3 separate regions of the Homo sapiens genome follow, and regions 2 and 3 are each linked to region 1. The links come from fine-mapping of genetic effects on gene expression. A gene starts in region 1. Each other region holds a variant in brackets. All regions are shown on one strand. Distances are between the middles of the regions. Region 1 holds the start of SSR1 (signal sequence receptor subunit 1). Region 2 overlaps LOC102724234 (a long non-coding RNA gene). Region 3 has its middle 45 kb from the start of SSR1.

Region 1 (2,756 bases):
CTGCAGCTTCACTCCTAAAGCCACCGAGACTATGAACCCACCAGGAGGAATGGACACCTTAACAGCTGTAACACTCACTGCGATGGTCTAGTAGCTTCACTCCTGAGCCAGTGAGACCATGAACCCACCAGAAGGAAGAAACTCGGAACACATCCGAACATGATGAAGGAACAAACTCTGGACTTTAAGAACTGTAACACTCAGCACGAGGGTCTGCGGTTTCAGTCTTAAAGTCAGTGAGACCAAGAACCCTATTCCAGACACAGCTCTGACATAGAGTGGCAACACTGGTAGCGTGCACAGGAGCAGAGGCAGCAGCAAAGTGAGAGGAGGCCCTCCACTTATGCTGGGCGCCCTAGTAGCAGCAGCAACACAGCAGCGGTGCCACTGGTGGCCTGGCAGAGTGGAATTTGGTTGATTCAGCCCAGCACCATCAGGCTGTGACTTTAGCAGACTGTAGGTAGTGGTGGCAGTGGGTCCAAGCTGCATTTACAGCCCCCAGGACAAGGAGACCTGAAGCGGAAACAATGCAGGAGTAGAACAGCAAATGTCCTAGGTCAGTAGTGTATGGAATCTGGAACCAGATAGCCTTGTTCAAATCTTGCATCTGCCGTTTGCTAGCGTTTTGAAGCTTTGAGTAAATTACTAACCTCTCTGGGTCTGTTTTCTCCTCAGTAAATAATATCCAGCTCATAGAGAGGTTTAGAAAATTAAATGAAAAAGCACAGCTCTAAGGAGGTGATTGACAATAGTAAGCATATGATTTATTTCCTCATCTTTATGACATCTCACTCTGGTCCAGACCAAGATTACTTAATATTCAGATTAATTTCATGAACTGCTATATTACTCCAGCAACTCAAATCCAAAATAGATGAAAAGGAAACTAAAGAAAACTGGACAGCCATTGCTGCACCTATTGTATAGTTACAAATGCTGACTACATACCAAAACACTGTTTAGGTGACTTATAATTCTGGAATGTCACATACGAATTTAAGAATTGCTGGCCAGGCGCAGTGGCTCACACCTGTAATCCCAGCACTTTGAGAGACCCAGGCGGGTGGATCACCTGAGGTCAGGAGTTTGAGATTAGTCTGGCCAACATGGTGAAACCCCCGTCTCCAGTAAAAATACAAAAATTAGCCGGGCGTAGTGGTGCGCGCCTGTAGTCCCAGCTGCTTAGGAGGCTGAGGCGGGAGAATCGCTTGAACCCGGGAGGCGGAGGTTGCGGTGAACAGAGATGGTGCCACTGAACTCTGGCCTGGGCGACAGAGCAAGACTTCGTCTCAAAAATAATAATTTAAGAATTGTCATTACTTAACCATGGGAGAGGGTGTGGGCAGACAGGGGACAAAGATTTTCCACTGTGTATTTTCATGGTTTTTCCTTTGAACAATGTCCTCTCTTCCAACAAAATTTTTTGCTTTTAAGTGCCACATAAAGGCAGCTCATGTTCCTTACATCGCCGTTATCAAGAGGATCGTCATTCAAATAAAGTAACCACTGACAATGCTAATTAATTGGAAGTAAAGAACTGGGCGGAAAGAACGGCTAACCGCAAGCTGCCGGGTCGCAACTGCGGCGGAAGGCGGACTCTCGCGGGAGCCACAAAGAGGCAGCAGCCGGCCACGTGACTTCCCGGTGGCCTGCTCTCCCCACCTCTCCGCGCTGAGCAGCCACGTCGGCGGCGGTCCCTGGTCCAGGGAGGGGCGTGGCAAAGGCCCGTGCGCGGTACGTGTCCCGCCCCTCGCTGCCCGGAGCCCGGATGAAGAGTAACGCCATTACCGCCGGAGCCGCCGAGAGCCTTAGCCGACGGAAACTGGACACTGGACCGGCAGCGCCATGAGACTCCTCCCCCGCTTGCTGCTGCTTCTCTTACTCGTGTTCCCTGCCACTGTCTTGTTCCGAGGCGGCCCCAGAGGTGAGGCTGGGGGAGTGTGCGGAGGGGATGGCCAGGAAGGAGATGCCAGTGATGGCAAGTTTGAAGTTGGAGGCGGTGGCCGCTCCGGGTCCTGGGGTCCGCGTCCACCCCGCTGGCCTCTCTCCGCCCTCTCCCCAAGCCTAGGCTCGTAGCAGCAGGGGTCCCCGCGGGCGCTGGAGACCCCGCTGCGGCCTGCCCCTTGCACGCGGAGCGCGGGGCCGTGCCCGGGCGACCTTGCTTCGTGGCCGGCCGAGGGCTGGGCTTGCTCCTCTTGCCCTGGACCCTCGCCTGCAGGAGCGGCCAGAACTGGAGGGTCCTCGGCTGCAGGAGGAGGCGCTGGACACGGCTGCGCTCCGAGCGCGCCGCAGCCGGGCTGTTTCTTTTGGCCACCTCCGGCTCCGCTCCACCCCCAGCCCCTCGCGCTCAGGGCTGACGTGTCTTTAGCTTCCACGCCGGGAGTCCGTCTTCATTCATTTGCCAAAACCCTTGTTTTCTACACATCTAAGCCATCAGAGTGTCTTGTTCAATGGTCATCTGCCTTGTTCACGCCCTGCTTGACCCGTATGTGTTACTAGGAGGCTTGATTTCAGAAAAACTACCCCATCGTCACCCCCGTTATCCGCCCCTGCTGCCAAGCAGACTGAAGAATCCCTGTGGGATGTCTCCCTTCTGCCTTCTTCCTCTTCTTGTCTTTCCATGGAACAATTTTTTGTTTGTGGAAACATCGTATTGTGCTGAAAAAATGTGGCCTACTTCGAGTGTTTTTAATACATAGATTTATTCTTTCAACAATTAACCCAGCAATTAAGTGTGAAAATAACTTAGCAGAATA
Region 2 (2,756 bases), 130 kb before region 1:
CCACTCAACTGTAGTTCAGGGGAAAGATAGGTAACGAATGCACACACCTCATTTTCTTTCCTGAATTACCAAAACAAAACCACCCACAAGAATAGAGCGCTTAAAAGAAAACTGCGGAAAAACGTACAAGACAAACGTCAGCGGTAGGGCAAATAACTAACCTGAGAAAAGCCGAATACTAGATAGAGAAAAGCTAACAGCCAAAAAGCCTCAGCCTTTCATAAAGAGGCAGCACCTGGTAACCCTGGGAACTAGTGTGTCCAGAACTAGCGGGTTCTCGGTCTTACTAATTTCAAGAACGAAGTTGCAAACTTAAAGTGTTTTAGCTGTACAGTGAGTGTTCCAGCTGTTAAACACAGCGTTGCCCAGAGTTCGCTGTCTCACTAGTTCGGGAGTAAAGCTGCAGACCTTCACAGTTCATGTTATCATACTTAAAGTACCATATCTGAAGTTCTCTGTTCTTTTTCAAGGGCTCACAACCCACATTAGATTCAGAAAAATCTACAGACTTTAGCAAAAAACCGCTGAAACTCCCAACAACAATCTGAACCCAAAAAACAAAAAAAAAAAAGACAAATATCTCACATCATATGAAACAAACTAACCAAATTACCGGGGCTAGCTCGGGCAGCCTGCTTTTATTCTCTTATCTGGCCCCACCCACATCCTGCTGATTGGTCCATTTTACAGAGAGCCGATTGGTCTGTTTTACAGAGAGCTGATTGGTCCGTTTTTAACAGGGTGCTGATTGGTGCGTTTACAATCCCTGAGCTAGACACAAAAGTTCTCCACGTCCCCACTAGATTAACTAGATGCAGAGTGTTAATTGGTGTATTTACAAACCCTGAGCTAGACACAGAGTGCTGATTGGTGCATTTACAAACTTTGAGCTAGATACAGAGTGCCGATTGGTGCATTCACAATCCCTTAGATAGACATAAAGGTTCTGCAAGTCCCCACCAGATCAGCTAGACACAGAACGCCGATTGGTGCATTTACAAACCTTGAGCTAGACGCAGGGTGCTGATTGGTGCATTTACAAACCTTCATCTACATACAGAGTGCCGATTGGTGTATTCACAATCCCTTAGCTAGATAAAAAGGTTCTCCAAGTCCCCACCAGATTAGCTAGATACAGAGTGCCGATTGGTGCAGCCACAAACCCTGAGCTAGACAGAGGGTGTTGATTGGTGTGTTTACAAACCTTGAGCTAGATACAGAGTGCTGATTGGTGTATTTACAACCCCTTAGCTAGACATAAAGATTGTTCAAGTCCCCACCAGACTGACTGAGCCCAGCTGGCTTCACCCGGTGGTATTCCCCAGCGGGGCCGCAGGTAGAGCTGTCAGTCCCGCCCGTGGACCCGCACTGTTTAGTCCTTTGGGCGGTCAATGGGACTCTGTGCTGTGAAGTAGGGGGCGGCGCTCGTCCGGGAGGCTCAGGAGACT[C/T]GGGCTGTGCAGGAGCCCAGGGCGGGGTTGGGACGGGGGGCTCAGGCATGGTGGGCTGCAGGTCCCGAGCCCTGCCCCATGGGGAAGCAGCTAAGGCCTGGCAAGAAATCGAGGACAGCCGTTGTTGGCCCAAGTGCTAAGTTCCTCACTGCCTGGGCCGGCGGGGCCGGCCGAGCCCAAGCCCACCCAGAACTCGCTCTGGCCCGCAAGCGCCGCGCGCATCCCCGGTTACTGCCCGTGCCTGTCCCTCCACACCTCCCCGCAAGCCAAGGGAGCCGGCTCCGGCCTCGGCCATCCCTGGAAGGGATCCCACAGTGCAGCGGTAGGCTGAAGGACTCCTCAAGCACGGCCAGAGTGGGCGTCGAGGCCGAGGAGGTGCCAAGAGCGAAGGGGGGCTGCCAGCAGGCTGGCACCTCTCACTAGCGGGGAAGGAAGTGTGACTGGGTTTCTGAGGAGGAGCTGTTAAAGATGCTTTTAAATTCCAGGATCCCTCCCCGACTCCTGGACGGGCCCTTTCCCACTGCAGCACAAGCCTGGGGACAGATGTATTTTCAGGAGAGGGGAAAGGAGAAGGTCTCTGCACTGGGGACCAGGGGCACAGCTGCGGGGGAGGACCCGAGAGTCAGTGGGGAGGGTGGTGTGAATGTTTACACCCTAAAGAATGCAGCAGCATACCACCAAAGTCTCTAATATCAAGGAGACGCAAGGAAGGGGGAAAAGCAACTTGGGGAAATGGGACACTGCAGAGAAAAGATAACTTCCAGAACCCCCTCGAGTATTAATAAGGGAAACTGACCTGTCTCTAGCTAGAGACTCAAAACCAAGTCAGGACAGCATGTTTTTAAAGCCAGATGACAGCAATATAGAGAAAAGAGAGTGTATTCATAAAAGAAGAATGCAATGAGGTTTTTTGTTTTGTTTTAGTTTTTTGTTTTGTTTTGAGACGGAGTCTCTCTCTGTCGCCAGGCTGGAGTGCTGTGGCGTGATCTCAGCTCACTGCAACCTCCGCCTCCCAGGTTCAAGTGATTCTCCTGCCTCAGCCTCTGGAGTAGCTGGGATTACAGGCACGCGCCACCACGCCAGGCTAATTTTTTTATTTTTAGTAGAGACGGGGTTTCACCATGTTGGCCAGGGATGGTCTCGATCTCCTGACCTCGTGATCCGCCCACCTCAACCTCCCAAAGTGCTGGGATGACAGGCATGAGCCACCGCGCCCGGCCCACAATGAGTTTTTTTAAAGTAGCATTCAAGAGAACAAAGAAAGATCTATTGGAAATTAAAAATATAATAGAAATGAAAAGTTCAAGG
Region 3 (2,756 bases), 45 kb after region 1:
AATCTCTCCAGATAGGTCTTTGTGTGCAGTTTTCACTGCTTTACTCGTGAAGCATGGCTAAATGTTGGGGTTTCTTTTTATGCCAGATTCTCACTGAAAGCATGAAACTCTGATCAAATCCCAAGAAAAAAGCATGATATTTATCCTTCCTTTGGGGAATCACAGAATGGACCAGTTTTAGAAACTTGGAACCCCATCCTAGATTTTTCCATGTGTTTCTTCATGGGAGGGTGGATGGGTGTGAGGGGAGAGTCTCTGGGTCTTTGATTGTGGGAACTATTTGGCCTGGACAGAGCAGCAGAGAGTCTTGGGCCCCCCGCCCTGCTGCCTCTGTCCAGCCACACACTTCATGCACCAGTAGGGAAGTGCCTGGCGGGGCGTCTGGAAGCCTCTCAGGAGGTCACTGTCTCCCTTTGCTCTTTCAGACGCAGGAGGAGGGAGACGCACTGATGACATCGGGCCGCTCCTGCAGCTCGGGCGCCTCGCAGTCTCCAGGTGCAAGGCCAGCGCTTCCGCCGTGGCTGCTTCAGGACATCCCCCAGCACAGCCGTTCCTGGAGACCCGGCCATCTTTTCTGCATCGTTTTGCAATTTGTGAAACTTAGGACAGCAGCCGCCTGTTCAACCGGGCCCTCCGCCGGATGGCTCTGGGAAGTCACCGCTGGGCATGGCTGTGTCACTAGGGCTTTGTGGCTGATGAATAACAGCTGTCGTGTGCTGTTTCTGGGTGGAGATGTCCCAGGAAACCAGTCCTACTCTGCCAGCCAGTAGGATGGGGATGCAGGTCCCGCCAGCAAGGACTGGCTGAACCGTGCGACCCATGCAGTAGGGCCCTTGGGTCAGCTGTCCCCACCCACTACACTGATGGTGAATGAGGCCAGAAGACAGGGGGCTCTGCGTGAAGCCCACCAGCCCCTGCCACGTGATGGTTGGAACGCGTACCTTAGAGCTTCCAGTTCCGTCTTAGGACATTTTCAAAGATGAGCGTCCTCAGGAGGGGCGGTGGAGGGGGCATGTCTGGAGGGACCTGAGGCACGGGGAGCGCTCGGTGCCCAGGCCGAGCAGTGCCACACGTGCGCACGAGTTATGCCTGCAAACACGGGTTACGCCTGTGAGACCAGTGGGCTCCTTCCAGCCGGGCTGCCTGAGGCCACTGTCT[G/TG]TGTGTTGGTGCCCATTGTGGGCTCCGGGGCGCTCTTCCCTTGTGCTGACGTGAGTGGAGTTGAATTGCCCTGAATCAGATTAGACTGAAATAAACTGAATTGAAAGGCCTACAAATAAGTATGAATCTCTTGCTGAGTGCCAGGCTCTGGGGAGTCACAGCTGAGTAAGACAGCCGCTGCCTGTCTTCACACTAGCCGGGCCCATAACTAATATTATGGACTTGCAGCAAGAACATATTGGGGGTGGTGGGTGGGAGTGGGGAGGGGGGCGAGAGGCTTCAGGAGGAGGAGATCTTTGAGCTGAGCCTTTGAGAATGGGAGTGGGGATTTTGGAAAAAGGTGAAGGTAAGAAGGACACAGGGGACCTGGGAGGCAACAGGAGCAGAGGTGCGCTGCATCTGAGGCGAACACAGGAGAGGGCGGAGACGCAGTGCTCACTTGCCACCTGACAGAGGCACACACGTGCACACAGAGTCACAGGCAGAGAGAGGCATCGCACACTCAGCCTGTGAGCCACACGCATCAGAACCACCCAGAACACACACACATACCTACTCCAGCAGAATCTCAGGGAGCCGACCCAGGAAGCTGCATTTTAAAACAAGCTCTACATGGGAATTCAGAGATTGACAGTGTGTGTGTTGGGGGCGGGTGGTAAGCCTCTGTCAGCCAGCGGGGGTGCGGGGGCATTCAGTGATTTGCAGGCTGGGCCTGCCAGGATTTGCCCCTGGCACATGAGTAATTGTTGCACTTCACCACACAGCACAGTTGCCTGCAGGACTTGTCCACACACAGACTGCTGGGCTCCACCCCCGAAATTCTGAGTCAGTCGGCCTGGAATTGGGCCCAGAATTGCTTGCTGATCAGTTCCCTGATGGGTGATGCTGGTACAGGGGCCTCTGAGAAAAAGATGGATTGGAGAGAGATGAGGCATCAGCCAGACTGAAGGAAGCCCTCACTGGCTCTCCTGAGACTGAGGTGCCGGGACAGTCGCAATATTTGCAGCACTTTGATTTGACCAGATGTGCCTTTCTCTTCTGTGTGCCCATCCTTGGTTTCAAGCCCGGCCTGTGACAGTAGTATGGTATTCTGGACATATGACAGACACCCAGTGCCCCGATCTGAAGATGGGTGAGCCTGGGTCACGCCGCCCAGTGGTCCCCGCCAGGGTCCCTTGCTCAGGGTGATGCCATCTCCTAAGCGGTGCAGCAGAGACCTGTGGCTCTGAGGCCACTTAGGAGCATTTCTGGGCATCCATGCAGTGCCTTGATTCCAGCACCCAGAAATGCTTCCAGTGTTACCAAGGTCACAGGTGGAAACCCCAGATGTCCCTTGGAAGGCTGTGCTGCCATCACCCGTGGGGCTTGGTCACGTCCTGGATCTAGGGGTGATCATTTATCAGCAGGCTACACAGGATTGGAAGAAGGGCCCCTGGGAATGATAAGTCTGTTCCCAGTAGGAACCCAATGTACCACCAGCAAGGAGCTCAGCACTGTGCTCAAGCCCAAAGGCACAACCAGCTTCCAAATCCCATCTTTGCAGGTCTATGGCTGGGACTACTCATGGTACCAATGCTGTACCAAGCAAGAGAGGAAAC

What was found. PIP is the estimated chance that this variant, and not a neighbour inherited with it, causes the effect. A credible set is the group of variants that fine-mapping cannot tell apart.
Region 2: its variant is the best candidate, but not a certain one, in a credible set for the expression of SSR1 in whole blood (INTERVAL, PIP 0.89).
Region 3: its variant is the best candidate, but not a certain one, in a credible set for the expression of SSR1 in whole blood (INTERVAL, PIP 0.86).

Annotation. Positions count from the first base shown.
Region 1 is chr6:7,312,210-7,314,965 of GRCh38, reverse strand. SSR1 (signal sequence receptor subunit 1) reads left to right here and starts at 1,767. Exons shown (of 8, transcript NM_003144.5): 1 at 1,767-1,924. The coding sequence starts at 1,846. RefSeq lists enhancers at 1,392-1,451, 1,462-1,531, 868-1,734, 1,735-2,603 and silencers at 2,022-2,131, 2,262-2,311.
Region 2 is chr6:7,440,214-7,442,969 of GRCh38, reverse strand. The region is part of intron 2 of LOC102724234 (a long non-coding RNA gene); the gene reads right to left. Among named protein-coding and RNA genes, the nearest start is that of RIOK1, 52 kb to the right of the region's middle. The variant C/T (reference allele first, on the strand shown) is at 1,449.
Region 3 is chr6:7,266,824-7,269,579 of GRCh38, reverse strand. No RefSeq gene overlaps it. Among named protein-coding and RNA genes, the nearest start is that of SSR1, 45 kb to the left of the region's middle. RefSeq lists a silencer at 1,870-2,164 and an enhancer at 1,743-2,244. The variant G/TG (reference allele first, on the strand shown) is at 1,159.